Linked DNA regions of Homo sapiens. The protein of the gene in region 1 interacts with the protein of each later gene in a pairwise test. Each region holds a gene or a part of one and is shown on either strand. Other genes may lie near its edges.

Region 1 (3,755 bases):
GCCAGAAAAGTTCTCCTTAAGAAGGAGCTATTCGAGCTAAACCTGGAAGGACTGGTAGAATGGAGCTGGGCAAAGCGAGGGGGTGACGCACCATCCACCAGCAGAGGAGCAGAGCAAGGGGGAGTGTGCGCCACCATCTGACTGTCGAAGCCATCAGGCTGGAGTGCAGAGATCCCAAGCAGGGCGTGCCTGCACAAACAGGGTGTACTTGAGCAAGTTATTGTTACTTCTAGGCTTGTTTTCTCATCTGTGCTATTGGAGTAACAGAAATATTGAGAGGATTAAGAGGGAATATATAAAGTATGTGACCTCAACTTCCTATGAGCCTAGGACATAGTAAATGCTCAAAAATATTAATTATTATTTTTGTTATCGGCACATAGGAAGCATTCAATAAATGTTAGCTCTCTTTCTCCTGATTCCTTTCTTGGTGGGGAATAGTATATAAGTTTGCCAAGTGACTTGCCATTTGTCTTCATTTGAGGATAACTACACCTTATCTTGTCAATTTGTACTTGTGGATTTTCCCCACTAGAACTTAAAACACTCTGAGAGCAGGAATTTTGTTTTTTCTGTTTTGCTCATAGCTGTATCCCCAGTGCTAGAATAGTGCCTAGCATATAGAAGGCATGCAGTAGGACATGAAGGACCTTCCTCTCCCCCAGTTTCATGGGGGGTGGGGGTGGAGGCAGCAACTAGAGCGAAGAGGCAACTGAAACAGGCACCTCATGACTTAAGGGAAAGTGTGGGATAAAGTATCTAGATATCTGCCTTCACTGTAACTGAGGGAACCTGATTCCAGAAAAGCCCCACTCAAGTTTCTAAAGTTGTTTTTTTGTGGTTGGAGGGCTTCGTGGGAAGTTTGGGAAAGGGGTGGGGGATAGTTTTCCTAGAAGGCCAGACTTTAGCTGTGACTGAAGTATAAATTTACACACACCCTTAGAAGCTCATGTGCCTGCCCCTCGGAGTTACGGGGTTCCTTGGGTGACAGCACTTCCTTCCAATCAGAACCTCGCCAGAAGTAAGCATAGAGGTGGGACAGGTTCTGTTTGGTGATCTGCGATTTAACAGATCAATTTGCAGCCTCCTCTGGCAGCTTGCTTTAAGTTTCCCTAGGCTGTGCTCCTGGTTTCATAAACATACAACCAGGCCCTGCCAGAGCCAGCACAGTATTCCCTGGCCCAGGGCCGCTGACTGTACTCACCACTGAATTTTTAAAAACAAAATAAAGCCTAGCCATTAACCCCACTACATTAATTTCTCTTATCGTGGTTGATGTCAAATGTGAAACCCCTCCCAACATCTGTCATGTCTAAATTCAGACCTGCGATCAGATAGCACAGCATATTCCTGTGCCTTTCATTGAAATCACCTTTTTTTTTCCTACGTTGCATAGCAATATAAATAAAACACTACACCCCCACCAAGCCGCATATGTTGGCTTAAAGGAAAACCTGGGCGCTGTTTATTCCTTGGTTTATTGTTGTATGGTCAGTGTTTTCCTATCATTGTGCTGCACTAGCTGCTCAGCGTTACTGACCCACAGGAAGCAGAGCTGTTCATTGTTGAAAAGCAGATTCCATATATGGCAAGTCTGAAGTTGCCCTCCTTTCCTTCTCACCATTATTAATACAGCTTTGGGTTTTCACTTGGGGATGCCTAACAGGTACATTTAAGAAAGACAGTGTCTTGCAGGCTTGGGAGTCAAAGAAGTTTGACTCACATGAATCTCATAGAGGTCACCTTCCACTCTTTCCCAAACTTATTTCAAACAGTAACTTCAGAGCAATCACCTGTCAGAGACATTGGTTTAGGAAAAAATACCTAAAGAAAGTATTCTTTGGAGACCAGCCCATAAGGCAGATAGGAATGTTCTCAGCCTCGCTGGAGGAGAATCTTCATTTCTGATTTTTGTCAAGGTGGAAAGAGAGTACCAGGGGCCAGTGTCCCCTAGTGTGGACCTAGAATTGCTAGGAGGAACAGATAGCCTACAAGAGGGGACAGTCTGAAGAAGCCACAGCTATGGTGCCAGGGTTCCGGTAGACCTCGGACAGACCTATGCAGCGTGGCAGTTCAAATCCAGGAATCCAAAACCTGGGCAGTGGATACTGACATCATACTGCCTGACTCTATTCCTGCCTCCACTCTTTACTACCTAGGGGACTTTGGGCAAGTTGTTTAACCTCTTTGAGCCTCCATTTTCTCATCTGTATAATGGACATAATAAACTACTAATATCTGTGAACTTTGTGCACATAAAATGAGTTAATATATGTAAGGTTATAAGTATGGTTCATGCATACAGTAAATAATAACATATCAGTAATAGTTGTTTTTAAATACTAGAAGTACAAATGGGAAAGTAGAATCTAGAATCCAAGAGGTTCATAAAGTCACAACAAAGCAGGCAGGTGTTTTACATCCAGCTAAGCAAGCAAGGTAGCAAGAGGCTTGGAGTTTATCAAGGGCATGGAGTCAAAAGGAGAGATCACTTCCTCCACCGTTCCCTGCCAAGTGCTGGGAATTCAAAGATGATTAAGACACAGCCCTTGATCTTGAGGCACTCATGCCTTTATTTAGCCTCCATTTTGCCTTTGATTAGAATTTATTCCCTGTTTAGTCTTTGCTCCTTGAGGGCAGGGACTGTGTCCTTTTGGCATCCCCTTTCTCCCAATCCCTCAGTACCTAATAGAGTTAAGCATGGCTCCAGCTAAGGTAGTTGTGTGCACTGACCCTGGAGCAGGATCTGTTTATTTCCTTTCCCACTTCTGTGCTACTAAGTGGAGGCCAAGGAAAAGCAATGGGAAAACCTTTGGTGATCAGTGCCTCTCAAACTTTAACGTGCGTACAGATCACATAGGGAGCTTATTCAGCTTTATTCGGATTCAGTGGGTCTGCATTTCTAACAAGCTCCCAGGTGATGCTCGTGTTGCTGGTCTGGGAACATGCTTTGAGAACCCCTGTTTTAGATGTGGCCTGAAGAGGTCAGAGATTCAGCAGTGGCACTTGTTTCTGACTGAAGCAGGGTGTGCCCTGCTTCTTGGCTTACTCACTTGGCTTGTTTTTGGCAGTTCTTTTAATTTCAGTTACCACTTTACCTTTATTAAGTCTCTTTTTTACGCTAATACTTGATGCTTTCTGGAATTACCGGGAGGCCACCTGTCCATTGTTCATTGCATTTCACCTTGTTGTTCTAGAACATCAGCCATGAAGTGTCTTTGGGTCTCCAACCATGTGTGACAAAAGAGAACGTAACCTCTATCCCCCAACCTTGACAGTTAATATCGCGAAGCTGCTCCCTTAAAACAAGTGATGCTATACTGAGCACTGAAACAAATCATGTCATGGTTGCTAAGGAATTAAAGAGAGAATGCTGCCAGCAAGATGGAAATACCAGATGGGCTGGGAGCACATCTTACAGATGAATTAACTCGGGTTACCTTGGCCTGCCTTTTTCATCCTCTTTGAATTTGATTGGGAACAAAAATAACAATGCTTCAGTTTACGAAGTGCTTTCATATGCGTTATCCCACCTGATCATGAATCACAACAATCTCACGAAATAGTGTAATTATTCCCATTTTACAGTTGTGAAAGCTGAAAGTCAGGCACAGTAGGTGGTATGTCCCAGGTCTTCTGACTTTAAACCCCATGCTTTTTTCATTGTTTTAATTTATTGGAACGTGTAGAATATAAGGTATAAGAAATGCTGCTAACTTGGAAAATCTGAAGCCTGTGATCAGGGAGATTATATT
Region 2 (3,755 bases), on another chromosome or scaffold:
AAAAAAATTATTTGTCCCAATTCCCCCTCACCAGCATATACACAGTTCATTGCAATAATGTGGAACTTATAAAAATATGGATTTTTTCCTCCATAATGGAAAAAAAATTGTGCCTCAGAGTCAAATGTATAAAATCAAAAATCGTATTAGTATAAACTTTGTATTTTTTTAATAATGAAAAATATTTTTGGACTTTCAGTGAAATTTTATTTCACTTTTTTACATTGTGATGAATTGATAACTCTAAAATCCCTTTTCTGGGAAGGAATTCTCTTTTCTCATTCATTTCAGTAAGTTTTTAAAAGTTCATGAAGGAGTTATATTAATAATGCTTTTCTCCTAGATCTGTAGCATTAGTTGTTACCTTGGAGCTTGGAGGGTTAGATTCTCATCAGTCTTATTGACGCTTTCAGTATTGAAAGGATTTTTTAAAGTTGTATTCACTTAGGATCTCAGTGTTGAGCAAGATTTTATCAGAATTTTAAGTGCCAAATCAGTTTTTATTTCCTTTGTGAGAAGTATCTGGCATGACTTTTCAGATATAAGAAATAGGAATGTGAAATTTGGATAATGTTCTACTTGCATGATTATAAAATAATACTGCTTATAAAATTTTAAGTGCTTCTATGTTCCTTGCTCTGTAGATCATTTTTTCTTTTCTATTTTATTACTCTTGGCTATTATGCTAATGCAATACCTTATCTTTGGTCATATGCCATCACATTAGGTGTAGTTAATTTAAACTAGAACTATTTGGCAGAAAAAGAAAAAAGCTTTCTGCTTGCTTTATCACTATGAAGTAATGCAGATTCACAATTCCTTGACATAAGAACTGTGTTCAGTTTACATTTTAAAGGACGCTGTCAAAAGGTTTGTGTACCATATATTTTTTTCTTACAAGAATGTAGATGATCTAAACCAAACTCAACGTGAAAACCAAGTTAAATCCTAGGTACATGTTAGAAAAGTTTATTTACACAGGTGAGTGTTACGCATTTGGAGAACTGATACACTGAAAATTTACCAAAGCACCAGGTGTGTCATTTGCTCAGGTGCAGCAGAAATTAAAATACTATTATGATTTGGTCCTTAACTGGTTAGAAAATGCCGGTCTCTCCCTGTATCTGTTAGAGCTATGTATCTCATTTTACAATGTAAAATATTCGCATCTTCAAAAAGAAACTTAGTTCCTGTGTAAGAACCTTATTTAAATATTGATAGATGAGTCATGCTTAGCTCTCATTTTTACGAGGGGCTTGATTATTTTTATGCAGTTTTTCCTTAACAGATTGTACCAGCTTTGAGTGCATAGAATAAGAAACCAATGTATGAATAATTTATATTTTTGGCAAGTATCCCTATAAATATACAGCTTGGAAGACCTAGAAATCCAGAGTTGCAGTGGATACAGCGTTTGTTATTTATAATTTTTCTCTTTAAAAAAGTGTATAATTCCTGATCCCCAATTAAACTTTATTTTCTGTAGCAGATTACATTTTTATAGCAAAGAAACACATATTCTGTTACGTCAGAGTGTATTTACTCAAAAAATGTCAGTACGCAAGTTAATGGCGGAGCTTGGTGGTAGCCTTGGATTTCTTTCCCTTTTGCCACTCTACAAAACATACTGTTGAGAAGATTTTATGTATTAAATCATACTTATCGTAGAAAATGGTACTTGAATGAAGTTTCTAACTTTGCCACATACCTGTCTAATTTACTTTTACAATATATGTGTCAATTGCCAGTGTGAGAAGACAAAATGAAATACGTTGTGAAAGGTAACTGTATTATTTTCTGGCTCTGCGTTATAAAAGGGAAATCTCTGTGGTGGAATAGGTTGAATATGACAGACCCATTTGAACATACTGTGTGCATTTTAAAAAGCTTTAGGAAGCACACAGTGATGGCTTCATCTAGTTAACCATTTTCATGTTAGTGCAATTTAAGATTGTAGTTAAATAACAGGTTTCCTAATGCCACAGAGTAAATATGTTAGTAGGATGAGATGAGTTAAAGACCTGTCTTAAGCATATGTGATTTCTCCATGTTTTTTAGCCAGTAAAATAAAAGTCAAACATGTTCCCCCAAAAAGTCTCTGAATCCCTTATCATCTAGGCTCCAGAAATTTCTTTAAGCACTGGTAGTACCTTTAAGACATGTAGAAGTTAAACATTAGAATTTTCTTACATGAATTGAATTATCAGAAAATAATTTGTATTGTAGTCAAAATTCCACAGCTGTGCCAACTTACAGAAAAAATTAGTGCATTTGGTATTAAACATTTACCATTATATAATTATTGTCTTGATACTTAAATTCAGGCAAAACCAGATCAGTTACTTAGAGAATGAGATATCCAAAATAGGATTTAATAATTCTTCAAATCTTTATATGGATCCAACACTCCAGTCTCCTTTCTCTGCTTAGTAAATATTGCTGATTGTTTTAGGGGGAATTGACCAGTGAACACTTAGAAGCTTTTGTTTTCTGATTTTAAAAGATAAAACGTATTGGAAAGGTTACTGCTTATCAAAGTAGAAAGCTAACTGTCCTCTAGCGCCAAAGTATATACTGAGAATGAGTGGAAATCCCCACCAAGTTTCCCATTGCACCTTAGTCTTCATTTCCAGCAGCCCTGTATGTCACTCCTGGCTGTCTCAAGATCAGACTCAAATTGTGGATTGCCCTTCCTGTAATGTGCTCTAGCACGTCTCCTGATCTCAGCTTCAGAGTGGAGGCTTGCATTTTCACTCTGGAGAGCTGAGAGTTTGAATGAGACACAGCTGCAACGAGACATCAGGCACTACTCAAAATTAATGAGGTGGGAGGGAAGGAAGTGTGGGAAATGGAGTTTCTTGAAATTTATGAATACGGTTTTTGAGATAGAGCTGTTGATATCAGATGAGCAACTGTGGTCATACCGGTGCAGCTAACCAGGTCCTGATATGCTTTTAAAGGTGCTAGTGATTTTTTTTTTCCAACTGGAAGAAAGGAATTACACTTTTTAAGCAGAGTTGTCCTCTGTCTTAAATTTCATAAAGTAAAGCACCAAGAAAATTATTTTATATGTTGGTGCTGTTTTGTCGTGTAAATATAGATTCCCTTTGTTTCTTTGATCAATAGTAATGTTGAGTTTATGAAAATGATAAAATGGAGGACACATGAGACAAGGATTTTTTAAAGTAGTTGAGAGATATTATATTGTATTGAAATATACAATATAATCCTATTTGACATTTATTTGTCTTGTTTTTGCTTTTATTTTATTACTTCTCTGTTTCCTGATTCTGTCTTGTGCCTTCTCCCGCAAAAACCTGCCTTAGACCTGTGTTGCGTGGTGGGTCTGCTGCCGCCACTTCTAATCCTCATCATGACAACGTCAGGTAAATTTTGAGACTTCGTAATTACCAGGGTAAATGCTTGGCGGAATTTGTGTGTTGCAGGGCATGTTGCATGTCGTAGCCATGCCTGTGTTTGTAGCTGAACTTGTTTCTACAGCTTTCCTCGATGAGTACATCTTGCTTCTCTCTAAGAACAGTGAATAATCAGTCATGACATTTGGCCAATTAGTATGAGGGAAAATGTTTAATAATTATGGTATGATGTGAACAGCTATTTTATTTAAGTGTAGTGTTAATAGTTTATAGGTGGTTTATAATAATTTACATGCTAAAACAGAAAAAAGTCTTAAATCTTATTTTATGTACATCATTTTAATGGTTGCCTGAATTGTGCCCAGCATTTCCTTTTAA

The links. Proteins that work in one complex are often made in the same cells at the same time.
Region 2: the proteins of TSPAN2 (region 1) and MFF interact in binary tests that used the Homo sapiens proteins (3 or more experiments, as listed by UniProt).

What each region holds. Positions count from the first base shown.
Region 1 is NC_000001.11:115,082,750-115,086,504, reverse strand, and holds part of TSPAN2 (tetraspanin-2), read left to right. Parts: intron 1-3,755. UniProt on the Homo sapiens protein: May play a role in signalling in oligodendrocytes in the early stages of their terminal differentiation into myelin-forming glia and may also function in stabilizing the mature sheath.
Region 2 is NC_000002.12:227,349,188-227,352,942, forward strand, and holds part of MFF (mitochondrial fission factor), read left to right. Parts: intron 1-3,326; coding exon 3,327-3,386; intron 3,387-3,755. UniProt on the Homo sapiens protein: Plays a role in mitochondrial and peroxisomal fission. Promotes the recruitment and association of the fission mediator dynamin-related protein 1 (DNM1L) to the mitochondrial surface.